Regions from separate parts of the Homo sapiens genome. Here region 2 is linked to region 1. Evidence: fine-mapped expression QTL. A gene starts in region 1. The other region holds a variant in brackets. All regions are shown on one strand. Distances are between the middles of the regions.

Region 1 (11,556 bases):
TGATATGTCTTCCGCTGAGTAGGCTCTGGAGCTGCGGGGAGGCAAATATGTGCAGAAGAAACTAGAATAAAAAGCTCTACACCATAAGCGTCAGAGTGAGGCACAAAGTCCCAAAGAAGGAGTCACAGAAGGGTTGGCTTCTGAAATGGCCAGGATGAAGACAAGGTGGGAATGTTCCCTGGAATGGGGAACAGCTTACGTCAAGTGTGGAGAACAGATGTGTTCATGGAATAAAAGCAGCAGTGCCACATGGTCTAGGCTTGATCTCTGACCCTGCCATTATGGCTGTGGGTCCCTGGGCAAATTGCTTAGTCCCTCTGAGCCTCAGTTTCCCCATTGGTTTAGCAATCAATACTTGTTGAGTTGTTTGTGAGAATGAAATAGGTCATTCTCTGTGATGTGCACAGAGCCCTGCCTGCCTTCCATAATGGCAGCTGGCAGTATCATTACAAGCCTAGCAGGCTGGGTGCACGGAGCATGTGTGTGCAGACTCTCTTAGTACAGCGCAAATCTAGAAAGTCCTGGTGGGTCAGACCGTGTGGGCCCTTGAACGTGTGCCAAGAAGTTTGTACTTCATGAGAAGTCATCAAAGGTTTTTGACCCACATGCTCAGATCTGAGTTTTAGAAATATCACGGTGATGACAGGGAGGAGGATGAATGAAGGAGGATAATCTGAAGACAGGGAGACTGATCAGCAAGGTTTTGCTGTCATGAGGACTCAGGCTAACGCTGCATCAATGGAAAGAAGAAATGGATTTAGGAGCCATTTGGGGGTAGAACTGATAGTACTTGACCAGGGATGAGGAAGATGAAAGTGTGAATGGATGATGGAGGAGCCATTTGCTGCTCAGGAGGAGAAGCGCGCTTGAGGTGAGGCAGTGAGTTCAGTTTTAAATGTGTTGATGGAGAGGGGTCCAGAATCCCCCAGGTGATGCTGTCCCAGATGTAGTTGGGTCAATGGTTCTGGAGCTGGGAAGGAGGTGTGAAGAACTCACACTGACTGAGCACTACCTATGGGTCAGGCAGTAGGAGAAGTATTTTCAGGTGTCCTCTCACTTGGTGTTGACCTGATAATTCAACTCCAAATATGGAAAGTTATAGATGTTGTTGTGACTATCTAAGAGGGACAAGGTTACTCCAGTCTGGGAGTGTTGGGAGTAGCTGCCTTGGGTGAAACATCTAAATCTTGTTGAGGTTTGCACAGGTTTTGAACCATATCGGGATGGCAAGAGATCATCTAACCTAATCTTCTCCCTTTAGACTGGGATTGGAAATATAAACAGAGAAGCCAGAAGAACCAGGCAGGGGTAGAAGACAGGGCCTTTTCTCTATTGTCTGTTTCTCCTTGATTTCTACTGGGAGAGAGACAAAGAAACACTTTCCATCCCAGCATCGCCACCTGCAGCCATTGGTAGCTTGATTCTGATACACACGTAAGGAGAAGCTTGCCAGTCTCATGAACATTACAGAAATTGCACTAGAATTTTACTTGGACTTACAAAAAAGAGGCTGACTGCTCTTCCCAGGGCTGGATGAGGGGGTGGAAAGTCTGAGGGCACATTCCCCTATGCTTGTTCCTCACCCGGGCTGAGCCAGTGTGGGCAGCCTGTGATTCTCCCAGCCTCGCACTTCTCTCCCAGGACACAAAATCCACCAAGGTTGTCCTGGACAGTGTGGGTCTTTAACGAAGAGCAATCGGGCTGGCCGAGGCAGGGTGAGTCCAAAGTCACTATAAATCCTTTGCCTACTGATGATCAGGCTCGCGGCCCCTGCCAAAGCCTGCACTGTACTCATTAGTGGCAGGGAGAGGGATTCTTCCATCGATCCAGCCAAGGCCTGGATGCCACGAAGACACTGATAAGTGCTGCTGGAAATATGGGCTCTTCAGTGCCCATGGCAGAGCCCATCCATCCCTGCCCGAGGTCACCTGGAGGTCTAAATGAGACAGGACGGGCATAGCAGAGTGGGTTTATGGTGGGGGAGTGGAGATGGGAGATGCTCGACAGCGCATGAAGCAGAGACCCTGGCTGTGGTCTCAGGCCTGTTGCTGGCCAGCCATGGGACCCTGGCTAAGCCCCCTTTCTTCTCTGAGTCTCAGGCTCTTGTGTCTTCTGACTGGAATGTGCCCTCACTGAGCCGGCACCTTGGGATGTGTTGGAGCAGCATGGAAGGAAGAGAGTGGCACTAAGGGGCAGGGATGGAACTATGCCATTAGCTCAAGAGGGAGCTGCAGGCTCGGCTATGGGCAGGCTCGGCTACAGCAGACAGAGTGCCCATCAACCCCTCTCAGAGGGCGTCAGCGTGGGCACCACCAGGAGAGGCTGGAGGCTAGGTCATGGATTGGCTGACTCCAAGATGCCCAGCACCTCTTGCTCCCATGTCTAAGGGGTACTGTATGGACACATGAAGCTTTGTCCTTGTCCTGGGCCCAGAAGGTACCAGTTGATGCTGCCTCTGCCACCTCTTAGCTGTGTGCCCTTGGGCCTGACTCTTTAACTAAGACTCAGATGCCTTATCTGTAAAATGCAAGGTTTAAGCGCCTTCCTCCCAACCCTAATGCTTGATGTTCTAACTTATCCAAAATCCTATTTCGGGGGTGGGGGGTGGTCCTAAGGTTGAAAATAATAAAATCAAGGTGCAAAGAAGTGAAAGCAAGTCTCTCAAGGACACTTGGCCTTTTGGGGGCTCAGATCTATATCCTAAACATTAAAAAAAGTAAACAAAATAATCATTTATGCTGCTATAGCCTTGTCAGTCAGAGACGGTTCTAAAACTTCCATGTGCATGAGGATCACCTGGGGGACTGGCTAAAAATAACAGTTTCCTGGGCTCCAACTCAGAGATTCTGGGATAGTGGCTCTGAGCTGGGTCAAGGAATCTGCATTTTAATAGCTTCTGGGTCATCCTTCTGCAGGCGGTTTCTGGGCCACATCCTAAGGGCACTGTTGTGTGCCCACAGCACGGGCTTGTGGGCCTGGGTTATTTCTAGTTCAGGCTCTGTCACTGGGTGGCCTTGATTAAGTGGCTGTCTCTCTCTCGGGGTGCGCATTGATGTTCCCACTGCACAGTGAAGGCATTTTCACACCTTTTGAAAGTTCATGCAACCCTTTTTGTCAGTGAAGTCTCACAGGGAATCCCAGTGTATAAAACGGTGGAGGCAGAGCTGAGGCAGCGCGGGAAGGACCGAGTCCTGCCCTCGGCAGCCCTGCAGCGGGCCCTCAGGACCCTCTGTGCAATGCTCAAGGATTCCAAAGGCCCTGTGCAGTTTTGATGCTCTTCAGGTGTCCTGTGAAGGACCACGTGGCTATATCCCACTGACGGTGTGAAAGCAGGCCCACCCGGCGTGCACTGAGTGACTCAGGCAGGCTGGTCTGAAGCACGAGGTGCCTTGGTCTTGCTCTCTGAGCCTGCATGGAGAATCACAGCTCAGACCTGGTGCTTATAGAGGAGTCTTCTCATGGTTCCTGGAGTTGTTCCCAACTGGACACAGACCATCTTGGGGCAACGTCCTGGGTTTCTCCCCTCTTGGAGACCAAATACAATCAACTCTTAATTATCTTTGTTAGTGGAGAAGAGCAGGGTGTGTATAATCTAGAATGATGGACAATCCAAAACAGTGAATAATCCTAAGTAACATTCATTTTCGACTTTGGAATGCATTTTGATATTCACATTTGAATATGGATATGTTTGATGTTCTAGGAATTTTTCATACTTAAAAAAAACACTCAACCCAAGGGTGGGGCTCCCTCTCTGCCTCCTACTCAGCTGAGGGGAGAACATCACCTCTGGGACTGGCCCAAAGCTACAGTCAGGTGCACCCCACCTTCCCCATCTCCTGTCTTTATGGCTCACACCTTATCTAGGAAGGGAGGGGGATATTAACAGATTTTGCCTTTAAAGGACTTTTATTCCCTTTGGACCTTATGCAAATAAGAGTAAAATAAGAAGCTGTGAAATGTTAACAGAGGACTTCATTAAGCAAACTTGGTGATAGCATTTGCCAGGAATGGGGACAATTTGCCAACAGATACTTGAGTGCTGACTATATATGTGTCCTAATTAAAAAAGTGATACTTCTCACTGCCCTGGGATTGTGGGCCGTCTTCTGGTGGGTTTGGGATATTAACCACAACTAACTCCGATACAAAGCACTTCACATACATTATCTTACCTAATCCACCTTCATAGCACCCCGTGGAGCAGGTCCCATCATCAGCCCCCATGTAGAGACTTGAATATCACAGCTCCAAGCCAGATGTCCCCCGTGAATATACCCTCCCAATTCTGCCCTATTCTACTCCACTCTGCCTCTCCTGTCACCCCCCAAACAGAGGCCCTGCAAAGCCTCAGCTGGTCTGCATCAATCAAAGAGAACGAAGCAAAACTAACTTGCCATTACTGCCCTAGTCTCTCTGATTGTTGGAAGTAGAGATGTTTCAAGGAGAGGTTTTGTGCTGGAAGCCCCTTGAAAGGATGGAGAGGGAGTGTGAGGACTGCCGGAGACGCCCAGCCTAGGAGGGGAAGCTTTCTGCTTTTCCAGCAGGACAGAACTCCTTAGAAGCAGGTGTAGCCCTGGCTCATATCCACCATCCTGAGAAATAGAAAATCTTTCCCATTTTACGGACAAGGAAACTCAGAGAGGTTAACTAACACATCCAGGGTCACAGGGTGTGGTAGAGGTAGGGTTTGAGCCATTTGACTCCAGGCCTGGCTTTTTTTCCCCCAACAGTAGCCGGTCAGCAGAGGGTGTTTGATCTGTGTGGTTTCCTCTTCAGAAAGCAGAGACTCACTACTGTGCCCCCTACCTGCCCCCAGCTGAGCTCCAAAAACAGCTATAAAGCTGATGGGAAGCCGATAGGACAGCCCCTGCCCTTCCTGAAGACCACGGAAACCTCTCCCATGGTGCCCTTGGGGCTGAGATCAGCTCTGTCACCAATACTTCAGGGCAAAAGTCGTTGGCACCACTTTTAATCCTAATCCTGTGTGGCCTTATTCAGAAGCCCTTTGCAAAGGCCGATCCCTAGCCATAGCTCTCTCTGCTCGGCCTTGGGCTGGGTGAATAATGACTTCCATTTCCTGCCCTGCTGGAGCCTTGGGTCTTTGCCACTGCCACCGTGGTGCTGAGCCACTTATTTGTTGTGAGATGACCCAAGGAGGACCAGCCGGTACCTGCTAGGCCCTTCTGCTGGGGCACGGGGTCAGGGGGCAGCACATGGGCATGTGGCCCCACTCCTGTCTGCTCCCCAGGACAACTCTATTTTCCAGCATGGAGTGCCCCTGGAGGTGGCGACAGCTCCTCTAATAAGAGAGTTACTCATGGCTTCACTGGAGAGAAGAGAGCAGCTTTCAACCCCCCTCTCCTAAACGCAACGATATTTGGTAACATGCGGCATCTTGGGGAGAGCATTCATGTCTGTAATTAGTTACTGTATATCACGGTTAGTACTCTGCTCAGAATTTACGGGGCAAATACCATTTAACTGCACAATAACTGCAGGTCCTTGCTGCTTATTGGGTAATTTACTAAGGCTGGAAGAACGGGGCAGGAGGGATTCTGAATGGGAGGTATTGTAACCCCTTGAATCAAACTTTATGAGTTTGGGTTTGGCAGGGAGGCAGCTGCTTGCAGCCAGTTCTCTTCTCTTTGTTTTGCAGAGTTGGCTGGCAGACTGCTTCCTTCCCTTGATTTATTGCAGGATGATAGGTCTGGGACTGGGGGTGGGACTGCCCGGGGCTACCTGGGGCTATGGAAGGGACTTTCCATAGAGGGTCTTTGGCTGAGAGTCTGCAGCAGGAACCCAGAGTCGGTGTCCTGGGGGCTCCATGCAGGACAGCAAATGGGCCCTGTCATTTATTTACTCCCTCCACGGGGCTGCTTTTTGTATCTGGGCCAGTGGGTGGAGAGTGCAGGGAGCTGTCCTTGGTTGGCAGCATCAAGATAATCGCCTAAGCCCTTTCTTCTCTTGCAAGTCCGTTGCTGCCTGGGAAGCAGCCATTCCTGGACACTTGGCCGACATTCCTGGCCTTAATCTGCTTGAGCAAAGTCTGTCTTTGTTTGGCCATGCACTGTCTAAACTCCTCTAACCTATTTAGGCCACAGAGAGGGGAGAAGACACAATAATGAAAAACTCAACGTGCAACATTGCCTTACGCAATCTAATAAATTACTTGGTACCCGGCTGCCAGCTCAGACTAAGCCCAATATTGCCTGCAGTAATTATTTGGATCAAATGCAGTTTATCTGCTTCATATTTGTGCTTCTGTGCTCAGTGATAACTTATAAATGTCATTGTGGTGTTTATTTGTTATAATGAAACTTAATGGCATTGGAAGCCAAGAGCAGAACTGGTGGGGCGGCAGGTTTAAAACAATCTCTTCATCTCGGGAGAAGGAATGAGCCAAGATAACATGAAACTGCCCTATAGGGAAGAGATTTGCAGAGATAGTGGTGTCCTCGTGCTGTGTGGTGGACGGGAGTGAGCCAGGAGCTTTGAGCTGGCACCAAGGGGAGCCGTCTTTGCCTCCAGAGATATCTATCTGGATCGGGGAGACATGGCTGAGCTTCACCCTGCACTGCCCCATCTGTCCTTGCTGCTTTCAGGGGTGGGAGGTGTTCAGTCTTTATACCACCTGATGCCTGCCTGGGATAAGAGATGAATAGGGATGGAAATTAGAGTCCCTGGGCCAGGCACGGTGGCCCACGCCTGTAATCCCAGCACTTTGGAAGGCCATTGAGGGAGGATTGCTTGAGCCCAGGAGTTCGAGACCAGCCTGACAACATGTGAGACCCTGTCTCAATTTTTAAAAATAAAATAAAATAAAATAAAATAAAATAAATAAAATAAAGAACTCCTGGATGACTGCATTATGGAGAACAGGCCTTCAGGGAGAAGGAAGGGAGCAGGGTTGGAGAATAAAGGAGGATATCATGAGGGCCCAGACAGAAGGTGGCAAGGCTTTCTCTTCTGGTTCTGGAGGGCATTGGTGGTAGGAAGCACAGAGCATGAGCAGAACAGGGAAGAGCTTTCAAGGGTTGCAGGGCAGGGCCCCCACTGGCGCTGCAGAAGTACCTGAGGCAAGGGCCATTTAATGTAGAACTCAGGGTTTTGGCTTCATACAGTCCTGGGCTCTGCTATTTCCTAGCTGTGTGGCTTTGGGCAAGTTATTTGTCTTTCCTAAGTTTCATTTTCTTTATGTGGAAAATGTGAGTGATAATAGATACCTCTCAAGATTCTGGTGATGATTAAATGAAGTGATGTGTGTAAAGTAATGACTGTGGTGTTTGGCACACAGGATATATGATAAATAAGGGGCTGTGGCAGTGATTGGCACATAGTAGATGTTCAATAAATGTTGAATGTATCCATGAATAATAACACTTCCCACTTGTGTGCATTACAAAACCCTCCTCCAAACAGCTGAGCTTGGATTTAGACCTCACAATTGTTCAGGGTTGATCTTCTCATTTTACAGTGGGAAATGGAGGCCCAGTGAGGTTATGGTAACTTGCCCAAGGCTTCCCAGCTGGTAGATGGAATGGGGTCTTAGTTCTCCTACCTCCCAGGGCAAGGTTGCTGCCACCAGTCCACCCTGGACAGCTCCCAATCTGTGCTGGGAGACTGACCTCATCCTTCCTGATGAGCTGCCCCTGCTCCTTGGAGACCAGGCACAGAGCCTGTGCTGACCTCCCCAGCACAACCTGGGGGCAGAAGCAAGCGGGCCGCTTTCTGTCCATTTCATCTTAATACAACATTCAGCATTCACTCATAAAATATTCATTTTCTCTCCTCGGTGACATGCTCATGCAAGTCTCCTAACATCATAAATATGGATGAAGACTATTAGTCATTTTTATTTATCTCACTAGCCCCTTCCCTCCCCAGCACACCTTTTGTCTTGATCTCAGCACAAATGGGACTGAATTGGGGCTATTAACCCGGATCTCTGATAATAAAGCCTTGCATCCTGTGGTGCTTTATACTTTTTTTCAAAGCATCACGCAATCGTGATGCATATTTTCTCCTTACAACAAATGCGTGGAGGAAAGAGGGCTAGCATCATGAGTATACCCATTTCGCAGATGAGAACATAGAGGTCAAGAGAGATCAAGGTCAAAGTCATATACTGAGACAGGAACAGAACTAATTTTTAAAAAACATTATTATTGTTATTTGTTTGTTTGACCTCCAAGGAAAGGTTCTCTGGGACACTGAGTGTGTTTGCTTCACACAAATAAATAATCTGTATAGTATTTTACAAGTTTATAAAGAGTGTTCACCCATGTTACTTGGTGGGTCCCCACAAGGCAGGTATGATTTACTCTTGTTTGACAAAGCTCACACAACCAGTTAGTGGCAGATCTGGGCTCTAAAACATTATTTCCCAAAGTGGATTTCAGGGACCACTAGTCCTGACACATGCTGCAGGAAAAATGTTTTGTGGTCAAATGAGTTTGGGAACTCTGTGAGTCATATCCCCTTTGGGTGGCTTACCATGGCCTTTGGTGTATTAGTGTCTCTGAGAAGTTCTGCAGGAAAGACTCTCATTTTGTTAGGTCTCATGTAGCTTCTCCCCACCGTGTCTAATCACGAAGGCTGCATCTGACGGAAAACCTATTAACATGCTACAGAAATGCTGCCTGTGTGTACGCGTGATCCCTCCTCCCCCGTGTGTTTGGAGGCAGTGAGGATTAGAGCGTGGCTGGGAGAGGAGCGTGCAGGGGTAAGGACGGGGTAGGGGACCCACTGCTGGGGACTACTAGAGCTGAAGCTCCCCTCCTCAGGCTGTGTCCTCTCTTTCCCTCTGGGCAGTGCAGAAAATTCACTCAATATTAGGCACAGTCAGCCCAGCCCATATCTGGGGCAGGATCAGAGGGGCCGCCTGAGTGGCGGAGTGGGGGGTCTGTGGTCAGTGAATGGTGGGAGATTTGGGGACGGCAGTCCTTGGCCATGGGGAAAAATCAACAGGGACCCACAATAGGGGCTTAGTCAAGTCTGCCCTGGACGATGGTGGGGAAGTCACCCTATCCTCGTCGCCCAGACACAAAGCTCCCGAGGCAGGGTGGAAGTAAGAAGGCCAGGCTTTGGCGTTCAGCTGGCTTACTCTAACATCTGTGTGCCTTTAGGTGATGATCTAATCTGTCTGAGCCTCTGTTTCTTCCTCCTCAGAATGTGGATAACACTACCCACTTTGTGACGTGGTGAGGATTAGATGGTGCAAGTGTGCAAAAGTACCCTCCTTGGCCCTCGTCTTTGTGTGTCAGCTCCATCTCTCTTCCCCTGCTTTTTTGGAGCCCCTCAGTCAGAACAAATAGCTTCCCACCTCCAGTCCTCCACGAGCCTGTCATCTGTACCTCTCTTTAGTTCTCCCATCGCCCTGCCTTCTGCCATTTTATTATATGCCCATCTCCCCAATGGACCTGAAGTTCTCTGCAGGCTGCTGCTGACTCTCTCAGTGCCCACTTGTATCTGCAGGCCCGACCATCCCGCGTCTTCAGGCCAACCTCCCATTGCCGGTGTCTGGACCCCTTCTCTTGAGGGCTTTCTCTTTAGTTGCGGAGGCCACTGTGCCCTCACACAGAGCAGGCCAGACCTGCTGGGAGACAACACCCTCACCCAGCAGCACTCCACCCATGCCCTACAGGAGCTGGTGCAGAAATACCCCACCGCTTGGGTGCCCTAGCTGTGAGGTGGTGTTCAATAGCACTTCTCAGAGTTTCTTACTGGGACTGGGCTCTGGCTGCCCATAGTGGTAGCAGGTTTGGGGTCCCCCCATGCCGATGCCTCCTTTCCCATGTCAATTTCCAACCCTCCCGCTGGCACCTCTGCACCTTCATGAGGAATGACTACACTAGCGCTCTTGCTTAGGGCCTGCTTCCAGGGGAACCTGAGGTAAGATAAGGGCATCCTCCAGGTGTCATTCATCTCTGCGTACACAGTGGGTGCTGATGAATCTCTGAATCCAGCAGAAATGAGCCATAGGAACAGCGCAGGGGTGACTGTCAATCAAGGCAATGACGTCAGTGGGCTCACCACGTGGGTGGGTCCTGGGAGCAACGAGATAGAATACCTGCTCCCTTCCACATCTGGAAGCATCCACAGCCACACTCACACCTCTGTACCTTCCCCACCTAATGTTTAGTCAAACCTTGGCAGGCACAGAGGAGCTGAGGTCCAGGGTCCTTTCTCTATGAGCTGAGAACAGGTTAGTGTTGTGTTTTGAGATCCTTTTATGAATAATGGTTGAGAAGTGCTGCTCTTTAGTACTAAGAATAGTGGTTATTCCTAGTGCATTTGACTCGGAGATGGGGACTATTCCATTGCTCTATTTGTCCCACACTCGGTACACAGTTACTGAAACTGTCACCGTGTCCTATATTCCATAGGCCATTATGTGTATTTCAAACCGTTATATAAATGGACTTGATTTGGCACTTCTGAATGTCATTAAACTCCTCCCATACCAGTAACAACACAGTTTCCATAGAAACGAATACATTTCAGAAAGGAAGGCACAGGGAAGAAAGCAGATGGAGTTAGGGGGAAAACGCGGCCCCCTGGTTCCTACTTCCAGAGCACAGGGCCCGGCACTGTGACATGAGCACTCTGTGGAGGTGGGGCAAGCTCCTTCAGGTTTTTATTGACTCCCTTTGATAAAAGCCCTGGATAATTCATCTCAGCCTGAACCTGCTCATTCCAGCGCACGGCTCTAAAAACTTTATGGCACCGCAAGCCATTAAGCGCCTTCGTTTATTCCAACTTCTCTGGGGCTTTCTTCAGACCCTGGGGAGAGGGCTGGGGGAGGGTCTCAGCACTCAAAGAATTCTGTGATGAAGCCTTTGAGGCTGGCTGGGGATGGAAGGAAGAAGCAGAGAGAAGAAAGGAGGCCTCCCCGGTGCAGTTGACATAGTGGAGACCCCAGGATCTTGCCAGTGGCTGCTGTCCAAGTCACTGGGTCCCCTCGTCATCAGTAAAGCTAGAATGCGAAAACTGCAGCCTCCTGGGGTGGAAGCGGTGTGGCGTTTGGAGAGCCTGGCTGAGGAGCTGCCCACCGCCTCGGCAGGCTGCAAGTTTCTTGTCTTTGGAGGGATTCAAGCATAGGTTGCAACAGCCTCTTAGAATAAAACATCTCACAGGGCTTATTTCTCCAGAAGCCATGCTGGACACTCCTCTCCTGGCCTACAGTGTGATTGGATTCTCCTTCTCTGTTTCCAATAGCTACTTATTCATACCCGGTTACCGCAACTGCGACATTGTATTGTAGTTGCTGACGTGTTTGTCTCTCCCCGCAAGACAGTGGTATCCTTGGGGGCAGGGACTGTGTTTTTACATGCACAGCGCCAGGCACAGAGCGGGTACTGGACACATGGTTGGTGAATAAATGAGCATTCCGCCGTGTTCACAGTCTTTACACACACTGGTACTTGGCAGGGATATGGAACCAGATGACCTTTGGTCCCTTCTGGCCTGGAGAATCTGTAATGATAGGGGTCTAAGCCTGCCCTGACTACACCCGGGATTTGAATCTAGATTTCTCCTACTCCTAAGCCACAG
Region 2 (11,556 bases), 56 kb after region 1:
TTTATCCTTGCTGGGCCTCAGAGGCCTCATGAGTGGTGCCTTTAAGAGTGCAATGAGGCCGCAGCAGAAACTATCTCTAAGGCCAGCTCTTAAATTCTCTAACCCATGCTCCTGGCCAACTCTCCTCTGTCCAGCCGCAGGTCCTCATAGAAAGGCAGAGACACTGAATAGAACATAGAAGGGGTTGTTTTCCTAAAGCTCATATAAAATTCTGAAGCCTCAGCGATGGAACCTGCATTTGGGAGCTGCTCGATCTTTTCTGTTAGCATTTCCGCCACGTGCTTCTCAGCGTTTTGCCCCAGTTGGCCTTCCGCCCCTGGGAGGGGGAACAATGTCTCCTGGTGAAAGTCACTTTGCAGCTGCCCTGGGCCCTCGGACCCTCAGGGGCCTTCTGGGTTGTGAGGCGTGGGGCACCCCGTCCTGAGCGTGCCCTGAAGATGGGCACAGAGCTCCCCCAGCTGCCGTGGCACTGTTTCCATGCAGCTGTGGGGATGGTGACAAGGCCTGAGGGCTGTCAGCCCGGCTGAGAGCACTCAAGAGCCACTTCACCGGCCTTCTTTTCTCTTTCCAAGGCTCTTAACCCACTTGTGGAGGGGGTGGCGGGTGAGGGGCTGAAGAGGGTGGATGTCCACTTTGGGCAGACAAAGGAGCTGCAGTCAGCCTCCTCTCCAGCCTGGCTCTGGAGAAATGCAGTCAGCCTCCCCTCCAGCCTGGCTCCAGAGATCCGGAGCTGAGGGCAGTGTAGGAGCTGGCAGGGCCCTTGGCAAAGTGGAGCCCAGCAGGCTAGTTGTCCCAGGTTTATCGCCCAGGATTGGGGGGCTCTGTGTGGCTCCTGTCTTAGCTGATGACTCAGATCTTGGACTATTTCTCCCTTATCAAGGTCTTCCTCATCCTAAACTTGGCCTTGATTTGAGCCTCTTTAGTTTACCAAGTGTTTACCTGAATTATCTCATTTAATTTCACAGCAACCGGTAAGGGATGCATTGTGAGCATCATCTTACTGAGGACTCAGTGGCTATGACTCAGGACTGTGTCCTTTGCCTAAGGAAGGCCACACAGCTAGTCAGTGGCAGAGATAGGACTAGAATGAGTTCTTTTTCTCCCAGGGAGACCCAGTGGCCAGAAGGCACCTGCAGCCAGGCCACACCGCCCCCTTAGGAGCGATGGGGGACAGCAAGAACTGACAAGCCCTGATGGCATACAAAGCCTCCAGGTGACCAGCAGTGACAGACGCCAGCCAGGACATCCTTTCCAGAACCTTCTCTAGCTCTGCTGGCATAAGCAGCACCTGGTTTTCAAAGGCTTTCTTTGGTGTGTGTCTATGGTCATAAAGAATTGTAATAAACAATGATTAAGGGTCACAATATAGGCTGGTGCTGTGTTTCCTCCCTTAGGAGCAGAGGAAAGTGGTTGAGGTCTCCAAGCAGGTGGGGAGCCCTTGGCCCCTAGGAAGGCAGGAAAGTCTCCCAGGATAAATCTGTCTGTTCTAGGCTCTGGTGAACCCAACGGAAAGCCCTACGAGCCTGGCTGGTGGCTGAGCTGCCTTCTCCATAGGCTGTTCACCAATCTCGAGAGTCACCTGCCATGAAGTCCCAGGAGTTCTGACATCCAGTGTTCATGCCCATGGAGCAACCAACAAGAATGTTCTGTTCACTGCCGCATCCTTAGATCTAACACAGCACCTGGCATATGGTAGATGTTGAGTACATTGTCAAACAAACGTAAGTGAAAGGAAACCTACAAGATCATCATCTGCAGATAAGTCACAAATTATTAGCCCTATTTTTAGAGGTGGTAGTGAGGCCCAGAGAGGTAAAGTAACATGCCCAATGTCACACAGCCAGTTAGTGAGGGAAGTGCCAGACTCTAGGTCTCCTTTCACTATACTCTGTCCCTTCTGAAGGGGGGAAGGTAGGAATGTGATGACCTCGGCCCCAGGGCCAAGATATGTTCTTGCCATGTTTCTTAGCTGCATTGAGTTGACAGTGATCTGATGTGGCTAGGTAATGAAGAGATGGTTTTTCTCTGGGAAGTGACTCTGCTCCCTGACTTCTGGCAGGCATGCGGGAGTGGGGAGGAGGTATCTCTGTGTGGAGCTCTACATTCTGTCTTAGGAGCACAAAGCTCTTCACAGCTCACCTACGCATCTTGAGCCCAGCTTTCTTCTTCCAGGAAGGGGGAATGAAAGCAACTATTAATAAGGTAATAAGAACTGAATCAACCATCCAGCCTGGTCTTCCAGAAGAGTTTGATGGCCTCTAGCCTTGGGCAAGAGAGACAGAGCCCGGGCTGCAGTTTCCTGGCCTAAAGGATGAGTGTCTGCAGATCCATCTACCAGTTTCTAGAATCTTTAAAGCAGCAGGAGGAAGCAGGATGGGGCATTATATGGGCTCTAGTCTCTTTACAAAGTCATTCAGAGGAAAACAGGGACCTAGGAGAATTTTGGAGTGTGGTAGCCAGACAGACCTCTCAGAAATTCCCTTGATTTACACTAGCCATCACCAAAATCCCTGTGTCTCCATTCTCTCCCTTTGGAGGGCCGTTCCCAGCACGAGTTACCCAGAACTACCCACCCAATCAGAGCCCTTGGCTCTCTGTGGCAGGGGGCCCTCTCTGGTCAAGAGCAGCCTCGCTGGTCCTGGAGCCTGGGCCAGAGCCCGCCTGTCACTCTGCAGCTCCGCAATGTCGGGACACCAAAGGGCAGTGCCAGTAGCCCGCTGCAAGCTGACAAGGCTGAGTTCACATCAGTGCTGAGGAGTCGACAGGACCATCTGAATTAAGTGGCCAAGTTTAGTTTTTAATTAAGTCCCCGTGGTCTTTTAAAAAGGTCACTGACGACACCATCTTCTTTAAGGCCAATATGAAAAGACATTCAAAGTCAAAGTTCTGAGATGGGAGCCTTGTAACTTGAAATGTCACAGGAAGAAATTTGGAAACAGGGAAAGAGGAAGCTGGTGGGAAGGACAACCCTGTCACATTCTTTTGCCGTCAGCTTCACAGTTCCCACTTGGAGCTCCAAACTATTTCGGTCTCAAAGGGCAAGTGGTCCCAAGGTTCTCTCGAGTGCCTTCCCCGACAGAGGATTGTGGAGCCTCTTGTTTGCTGTGCCAGTGAAAAACAGAGCCCTTGTGGTCCCTGACACGGAATAAAAGTTGATAGCAATGGGGCAGAATGTGGCAACTTACCCCTGATGGCTGAGGAATTAACAAAAATGTATGCAATTGGTCACCATCCTCTGCACCCATTCCTGTCTTCACTTTTCTACCTACCTTGATCAGTACTGTATCATTTGGAAGTACAGTTCTGTCTAAAACAGAGCACAGCAGCCACTTAAGTCACCCATAGCATCCTATGAGGATTGTACAGTGAGAGCAAAGACCTGTGCCTGGCTTAGACCCCTAAGAGAAGTAGAGACTTGAGGTAATTTGAGCAGAGTGGACCACACCTCCTAGAGAAGAGATTTGGACCAGCCAATAGCTAATGAGCAGGCGCAAGAATATTTTCCTGGAGTTCTTGGCTCACGCCAATGTCTGAAGAGCGGGACTTTCTGAGTGGTGAAGCGTTCAGTGACTTTGCTAGGGTCAGAGGGGTTGGAAGTGCTCAGTAGTGTGTGTCACATTTTGTTCATGTTTGCAATAGGCCATGTAGGAAGTGGAAAGAATTTTGGATTTAGATTCAGGAAATTTGGGTCTTGGGGCAAAGAGTGCTATTTGCCTACCTAATATACATTCTCCCATTTATTTACCATTACAGTACTTTCATTGTTGGTGTGGCAGGTTACCCAAGTTAACCAAATATGGATTTCCTAGCCTTCCTTAAGAAGCTAGAGGTGATTGATGCGAATATTCAGAGATCACTGGTAGGCTTCTTTAAAGATGGCTGATTCACCTGGGAGGTGCACCTCTTTTGTCCTTTCCTCTTGTTTCTTCTTCCTGCCTGAAATGTGGGGCTGATGACTGGAGCTTCAGCAGCCATTTTATGACCATGAGGTATGACCCAAGAATGGAAGCCAGTGCTAAGGATGGGCTGCCCATCTACTCCTGGTCTTCATTTTATGTGAGAGAAAAGCAAACCCCTAATTTGCTTATGCCACTTACTTTGGATCTCTGCTACACCCAGTTGAATGCCAAACTGATACACATTGATTGCCCACTCTGTCATTCACTCCTGAGGGACTTTGGGCAAGTCACTTAATTTTTCTGGGCTTCGGTTTCCTTACCTCTGCAGTGGGAATAATAATTCTGGCTTTGTCTTGCAAGCGTTACTTCTGACCTGTAGGGCTCACTCTTAGGCTTCCTAGAATGTTCTCAACCCCAGTCTGAAGATCACGTGGTTTTTGTGCCTGAGCAGTGGCTGCCTCCCTCCCATTGTTTGGCCAGATAATTGTTCCCAAACTAAGAAATGTGCCTGCCTTCCGACTTCAATGGCTGTTATAAAGTCCCCTTGTGGGCTCCCATTTTCTAGAGACACAATAGCTTTTCCTGGCTTGCCCAGGCCTCACCCCTCCTTGCTGGGTGCAGAGACATCTGCTGTTTCAAGCTGCTAAAAGAGAAGCTTCAAAGAACCCCACATTGGCCCCTCTTAGGGCTCTGACTCATATAAATGTTTCTAGAAATCCTCAAAAGCCTTATTAATCTGTTAAGACATCCCAGAAGCAGGAGTCTGCACACCCAATTTCCACGGCTTTTCAGCTGCTTCCATTGTCTCAGCCGCATTGTCCCTGCTCGGTGTCTTGGCCCCTAATGGACTCTCTCTGAGGCAGGCACGCTTTCGGCTGCACCTGCTATTCCATTGCCTGACTCTTTTCTTCTTCTTCTCTGTTCTCTTTAACTCTTAAAATGAAAAGGTGACCAGCTCTTCCTGGGCTGTTTACTCCTCTAGCTCCCCTGTGCGGGTCTCTGCTTCACCCCCTTTCTCTTCTGGCATGTGGCTGGATCTGAGTCAGAGACATAGAGGCCCACATAGAAAGTAGGGGCCCATTTGTCTTTTCCATCAAATGGAAGCCTCTAGGGGTCTGTCATTCCTCATGCCTAGCCAAGATACCGGGTATCCCCACAAGCCTCTGAAGGGGAC[T/C]TGCTTACAGCTCTTGCATATAGAAGCTCTAATCAGGCTTCTCCAGAAACTCCCTCATCTCTGGTCCATACAGTAATGACCCTCTGATGTGTAACCTTCACTGTGGTTGAAGGGCCCTGGAGAAAGAGCCAGAAGACCAGGGCTCTGTTCCTGACTTGACCCCAGCTGGTTTCCATTTTCTTAGACTAGCATCAGGGGACTTAACTTGACAGCCAAGGTCCCATGGTGGGCAGCTTGCCAATTACTCCTGCCTCCTGGTTTTCAGACCCCTGTGTGCTCCCTTCCCTTGAGTATGGGCTAGACCTGGTGACTTGCTTCTAACCAATAGAACACAGCGAGAGTGATGGGCTATCACCTCTCTAGTTAAGTTATAAAAGACTAGTTTGCGTGTTCTGTCCTGTTGGCTCTCTCTTTTTCTCTCTGTCTCTCCTTCTCAGATGCTTGCTTTGATGAAGAAAGCTGCTATATTGGAGAGGCCCATGTGGCAAGAACTTGAGTGTAGCCTGTAGCCAGTATCCAGTGGGCAAATGAGGCTCTCAATCCAACAGCCTACAAGGAATTGAATCCAACTGACAAGCATGTGAGTGAGCTTGGAAGCCAACCCTGCCCCAGGTAAGCCTTGAGATGGTAAAGCCCTGACTTACATCTTGATTGCAGCCTTGGGAGAGACCTTGAAGCAGAGGGCCCATCTAAGCTGTGCCCAGATTCTTGACCCACATATATTTAGAGGTAATAAATGTCTGTTGTCTTAAACTGCTAATTTTAATACAGCAAGAAATAACTAATCTAGGTCCTTATTAGCTAAGAAGAAATGTGTTTCTTGCCTTGTTCCTCTGTATTTAAACTCTAGGTCCTTAAACCTTTCATACCCACGAGCTAGCCACTTGGGTTGTGCATGTGCACCACCCAACTCCACCAACCACCCCACTCCAACACTCAAATCTATGGGTGGTGCAAATCCCTTTACTCTTACTCCAAACATACATGATCAGAAAAAATGGAAGAAAGACATAGCTGAAATAGAGCTCCAATGAGATGATTCCTGGTTTCTACTAGGAATATAAGTAAAATTTGAATTTTTGCCAGAATCCAAAGTATTCAAGGAAGGGCTCCTTATACACCTTTGATCATTCACTTCCATGTCTCATCTTTCAAAGCTTGGCTTAAACTTTCCTCCTCTGGGAAAAAAGACCCTGACTTCTTCAGTTAGGGTTACTGTTCCCTCTCCCAGTCACCCATCAGTTTTGTCCATATCAGAGCATTCTATTTTAGTTATTTGCATATTCCCTTCTCTCTCTCACCCCTCCACGGATCTCCTACCCCAGGAAGGTCAGCATCCAGTGACCTTTTCAGGAAATTACCCAGGATTTCACAATCTTAGTCAGAAGCGAAATTTAAAACCCTTTGTCCCCCGTCCTCCCAGCCCCCCGATGTTCCAGGAAGCCAAAGCACAGAGCAATCTTTCCAATCTAGGAAGCAATAAAGAAATGTATTTATGAACCAGCCTCTATCTAAGGGAGAGAATTTATGTCTCTTCATGCTCTTGTTGACAATAATAACTGATTGCTGCATCAATGTGATGCAATATAATTTTAAAACCCTCCAGAACAAGGATCAGAAAACAACTGGCAGAGAGACTGAGCGGCAGCCGTGGGCATCTTGGGTTTTGCAGCTCAGCCCTGGGCCTGCTAATGCCCTGAGGCGATGGGAACACAGCTCTGGGAGCACCTGCAATCTCATCTTGTTTCTTTCCAAGCACCAGGGAAGAAAAGCAATTTGTTTGCTCTCATACTCTAAAGATGAACTTCCCGTGCTCAATCAAACGTTATTATCCCAATGTAAGTCAATTTACCTTTGAATTTGAAGGCTATTTTCTTCCTAAATGGCTAATTATGGGAGATAGATGGCTGTAAACAGAAGTCTTCTACCTCAACACTCCGCCAGGTTTTCTCCTTATGGCACCTGAGAGAACCAGAGAAAGGAGGCCTCACAGTGTCCTGGCCCCCTCTGCCCACTTGCCGCCCCTCCTCCATTCTTCTCATGCATCCTGCGGTGCCATTCGCCCACCCCGCCTACATTCCTGGACGCCTATTTGGAGTTTCATCCCCCTGAATTCCATCCCCTGCCGCGTCCATTTCTAGGAGCTCCATTCCCTCGTGCCATCTCCCGTTTTTAAGGACTGGACTAAAGGTGGAGGTCTTGGCCTGAGAACCGTGCATACGGGACAGCATGAGTTTTAGGAGACAAGGGGTCCTGTGTGTGTTTGAGATGAAACAAGGTCACCTGAGGCCGCCTCTTTGATTTGCCTGACAGAGTCACAGAAGCTGACCGCTGCGAGGCAGGGGCTGCGGCCTTTTCCCGTGGCATGATCAACACCTCGCAGGAACTAATTGAATGGCCGAGTTTGTTTACTGAGAGGAGGAGTAGCCCCCTCCTTTCTCGCAAAACAAAGTCTTTCCCCAGGAGCGGTGGCAAAGAGGTCAGCCCTGGCAGCGTTTCTGTTTTGCCTTTTGATGAAAGCCTACTCTGGCTGCTCTGAAGAAGGGAGCTCATTGTGTGCTCACTGTCAGAGGTGGCTCCAGCAGGGAGGCCACAGCCCTGGGGGCTTTTTGGGTCTTGGGGTTATGGAGCCTGTGGTGTGTGGGGTTATCTACAGGGACTGAGCTTTCTAGCTCTTCTCCCAGAAGTCTGGCCTCTGGTCCTCTGCCCTTTCCACCTGGGCCCCAGAAGCCATAGTAATAGCAACCTGCCTTTGTCCGGTGCCTCGTCGTCGTTTATGCAAGTCTATATACTTTATCTCACTTGATCCTCACAACCATCCTGTGCTGTCATCCTCCCCTGACAGATGAGGGAGAGGCCCAGAGAGGTCAAGTGCTCTGCCTGAGGTCACACAGCTAGGAAGTGACATAACTGGGACCTGCCTCCCTTTGGCTTGAACGCCTCTGATCTCTCCCGTCTGTCACAGTCCCATCACAGAAAGGCAGGCATGTGGCCCCGTGGTTGAAGCCCTGCCCCAGCTGTGGATCCGCATCACCTGGGCCAGGCTTCCAATTTATGATACTTACTGAGACCTTGGCACCACGGCCTTGATAAACCCCTCTGCCCTGGGCTTGAGCTTGCTGTTCTGTCGGGGGCAGTTCGCGGGGCTGGGAGGACAGGTAAGAAGGGAGGAGCTTTTCATGAGCTGCTCTGGAAAAGTTTAAGGCCATGGTAGGGTCAGCTCAGGAAAGCACAGCAGGGCAAGGGGCAGGTAGGCCTGTCCAACTCAGCTAATAGCTACAGAGGTCTCAAGAAGTAATGATTGGAGGCCTGACTGAGGCATAGAGACCAATAGGAGACGCTCTCTCTCCTAGCTCAGACCAAGGAACCCTAGAACATGCTCCTCCAAGTTCACCCACCGTCACCCTGCAGGGGAGGGGTCTGCCACACTCCAAAAAAGAATCAATCCACTGTGTGTTCTGTGGACTGTTATTTAGAGATGCCCCTACAGATTCCTGGAGCTGCTGGGCCCCATGCCAGGGCAAGGATCCCAGGACTCCCTGTTTAGCATAGTACTTTGATTAAAACAATAAATTCCCATTGAATACCGATGGGCAGGCAAGTGGGGGCTCATGCCAGCCTCGGTGCCCTCCTGGCATCATCTCACAGCAACTCGTTTGGGGAGAAATACCTCCCTCCGCTGTGATGAGAACCCTCATTCCCAATGAATGAGGGGGCAGAAGCTGCCTGGGAGCCTCAGGAATGAGGGCATCATGGGCAGGACAGGGTAGGACTGGGGCAGCTGCAGATGGCACCAAGGATATGGGGGCCTTGACTAAGCAGGGAGGGCCACAGAAGGGGAGAGGGGGCACACAGAAACCTCAATGGCTGGCCCCTGTCTGGTCCTCACCTCCTGACCCTGTCTCTGCAGACATGCTGAACTGGGAGGAACATGCTTGGGTCTTGGCCCCCTGAGCAGCTGTGCTGGAGCCACGCCTCAGTGCCCAGCGCTGCTGCATCTGCTCTCTGGCAGCACATGGCTGCATGTTTCTCTGGGCCCTGCCTGGTGCGCAGCAGCCATATCCTGGGCAGGTGTGCTGGGGCTGTTGCCTCACCTGGCCCTGGGATGCTGGTAGCTCCGGATTGACCAGGGTTTCTGATGGGAAGGGATGTATGGGAGAAGCCAGGGAGTGGAGAGAGAACTCGTGTTCCCCGATACAAGGCTTTTTACCCATGTCTCCCCAAATAGCCCCCCCTCCTCCCACTAGCCCCGAGGCTGGAGATCAACATCATGGTCCCATCTTTAAGAGGAACCAGGATCTGTTTTGAGATGGCCAATCAGCCAAAGAATGCCATAATTCACGTTATCCATTCACTTTTCAGTTGACTTCCTTCCTTCCTTCCTGCTTTCCTTTCTTCCTTTTATCCTTCCTCCCTCCCTTCTATCCATTCAGTAATATTTACTGATAATCCTTCACATGAGGCCCGATGCTAGGCTGTGGAAATCAAAGATGAATAAGCAATAGCTTCTGTCCTTGTGCTATCTCCTCCGGGTGTCCAGTATTATGACCACTGTATTTCTGAACCGAAAACGAGGACGCAGAGCTGACAGGGGTGAGTGTACACGTGGGAATGGGCAGGAAGACCACCCTGAAGGTCTGAGGCATTCTGTTCCTAAGCTAGGATGAAACTGAGTATTCCATACATACTGGCTGCATTGCATTTTTGTCTAGCATTCTTTAATAAGAACAGTAAGAGCTGCCATTTGTTGAACATGTACCATGTGCCAGGCTTGTACAAGATAATGTGTATACCATATCTCATTTAGTCTTCACCACAGCCCTACAGAGAAATTCACTGTCCAGACAGGGAAACTGAGGACCAGGCCGTTCGCAGTTAGTGTTAGTACAGTCCTTCTTGGCCACTCTAAATCCTCTGCTGCCTCTACAGCTGGAGGGTTCTGATCCGTTGGCTTACAGGTGTGTCCTGTGGGCCACATGGGGGTGGGTGGGTGTTCACAGCACACTGCCTGGAGCCATGGTGCACACAGCAGGGGGTCTGAGGCTGCGCAGAATGGCCCACTTCTAAACAAGCGTGTCTGAGCTTTGCCAGGTGTCCATGTTTGGAACACAATAAAAGAGGAGGTCTTCGAAAGGAGGTGACTCAGAGAAGCAACGCTAGACTCACCCCAGAGCTGCAACCTGCTAACTTCACAGAGCCTCACAGCAGAATTATTTAACCCCAAGCCCCCTCTCCTCATGGGGACAAAAGAGAAATCAGGCTGATGCTATCTCCCTCATAGCACACTTAGGAGGAGCAAATGAAACGGCATATGTAAAAGTGCATTGTAAATTGCAAAGTGGCAGATGAGATTATTATTACTGCTTCCTTCACCTCAACAAAGACCCATAATCACAGACAATGCATCGAGCCTGGTGAGGGTGTGGCCTTTCTTGGCCCTGCCCTTTCTCCTTGGCTCCTCCCACGCTCTTGGCTTTTCTCCTGGATTCCCTGCTCTCCCATCTGCAGCAGGTTGGGGCCCCATGGATAACTATATCTAGGGACCGACTCCTGGGATCTTACCAAGTCACATTTGCAGTTGGTGCCTCCTTAGTCACTGCCAGGATTCCAGGCAGGTATAATGTGCTGCACTTAATGTAGAGGATCAGGGTCCCAGTGAGCAGCTTCATCTTCAGGCGTCGGGAGTGGGAGCAATGGAGCACCCATGGTCTCCAGGTCTCAGGCCACTTGGGTCTGGGATTTGAGGCTCAGGGGGAGGAGTCCTGCGGTGACTGCTGTGAAGTGGTGTGGGGGCTCAGGATGGGACCTACTTCATGGGACATGATGGATGAGACTCAGGATGCCAGGAGGGAGGCACAGCCCACACTTAGCAGCTTGGCGCACGCAAATAGGAGCTCTGCTCACAGCCTGTGCTGGGCACTTCATTTCCCAGAGACAACCGGCGCGTTTTAATAATGTCTACTTGGGTTAATGAAAGTTGTCGGTTTCACTTAATAAATACATTGCCATTCTTGGCCACACATATCCGTCATGCTGGGCCTGGAGCTGTGCGTCCCGCCTGAGTTGAGTAGGGATGCTGGGAGTGGGAATGGGGTGGGGAAAGCATGGGGCATATGGGTAGAGAGTGAGGTCTGGAGGGCATGGGACATGGTCCCTCTTGGGAGTTAAGCAGAGGGAGTCCTCTCATTGCATCTTTCCTCTGGGATCAAATTAGAGGCACAAAGGGCAGAAGGGAACCTTGGAGGTTCCTCCTGTTCATTCTCTGCCTCAGGGAAGTGACACACAGAATGGCCCCTTTGGCAGGGAGCAGTGAGCCATAGTGTGGTCCAGAGGGACGCAGGCCATCTTGGGAAGGAATCCCAGTTGACCACTCATTATCTCTGTAACTAAGTCAATTATTCAATCTCCCTGAGCCTCCATTTCTTCAGTAAAATGGAGCTAATAATCATATTTGCTTCATAGAGCCTGTTTCGAGCATTCCAG

Direction of the effects. Positions count from the first base shown, and alleles are read on the strand shown. Sizes are in standard deviations (SD) of each study's normalised expression.
With allele C in place of T in region 2, the expression in breast of the gene that starts at base 5,025 in region 1 is lower (small effect, 0.22 SD a copy in GTEx).

What was found.
Region 2: its variant is fine-mapped to the expression of KIRREL3-AS1 in breast (GTEx, PIP 0.96).

What each region holds. Positions count from the first base shown.
Region 1 is chr11:126,538,803-126,550,358 of GRCh38, forward strand. It overlaps KIRREL3-AS1 (KIRREL3 antisense RNA 1), which reads left to right and starts at 5,025. Exons shown (of 2, transcript NR_174952.1): 1 at 5,025-5,442. All of the region lies in intron 2 of KIRREL3 (kirre like nephrin family adhesion molecule 3), which reads right to left. RefSeq lists enhancers at 4,663-5,169, 5,170-5,674.
Region 2 is chr11:126,594,590-126,606,145 of GRCh38, forward strand. The region is part of intron 1 of KIRREL3 (kirre like nephrin family adhesion molecule 3); the gene reads right to left. All of the region lies in intron 1 of KIRREL3-AS1 (KIRREL3 antisense RNA 1), which reads left to right. Among named protein-coding and RNA genes, the nearest start is that of KIRREL3-AS4, 52 kb to the right of the region's middle. RefSeq lists an enhancer at 7,243-8,020. The variant T/C (reference allele first, on the strand shown) is at 5,074.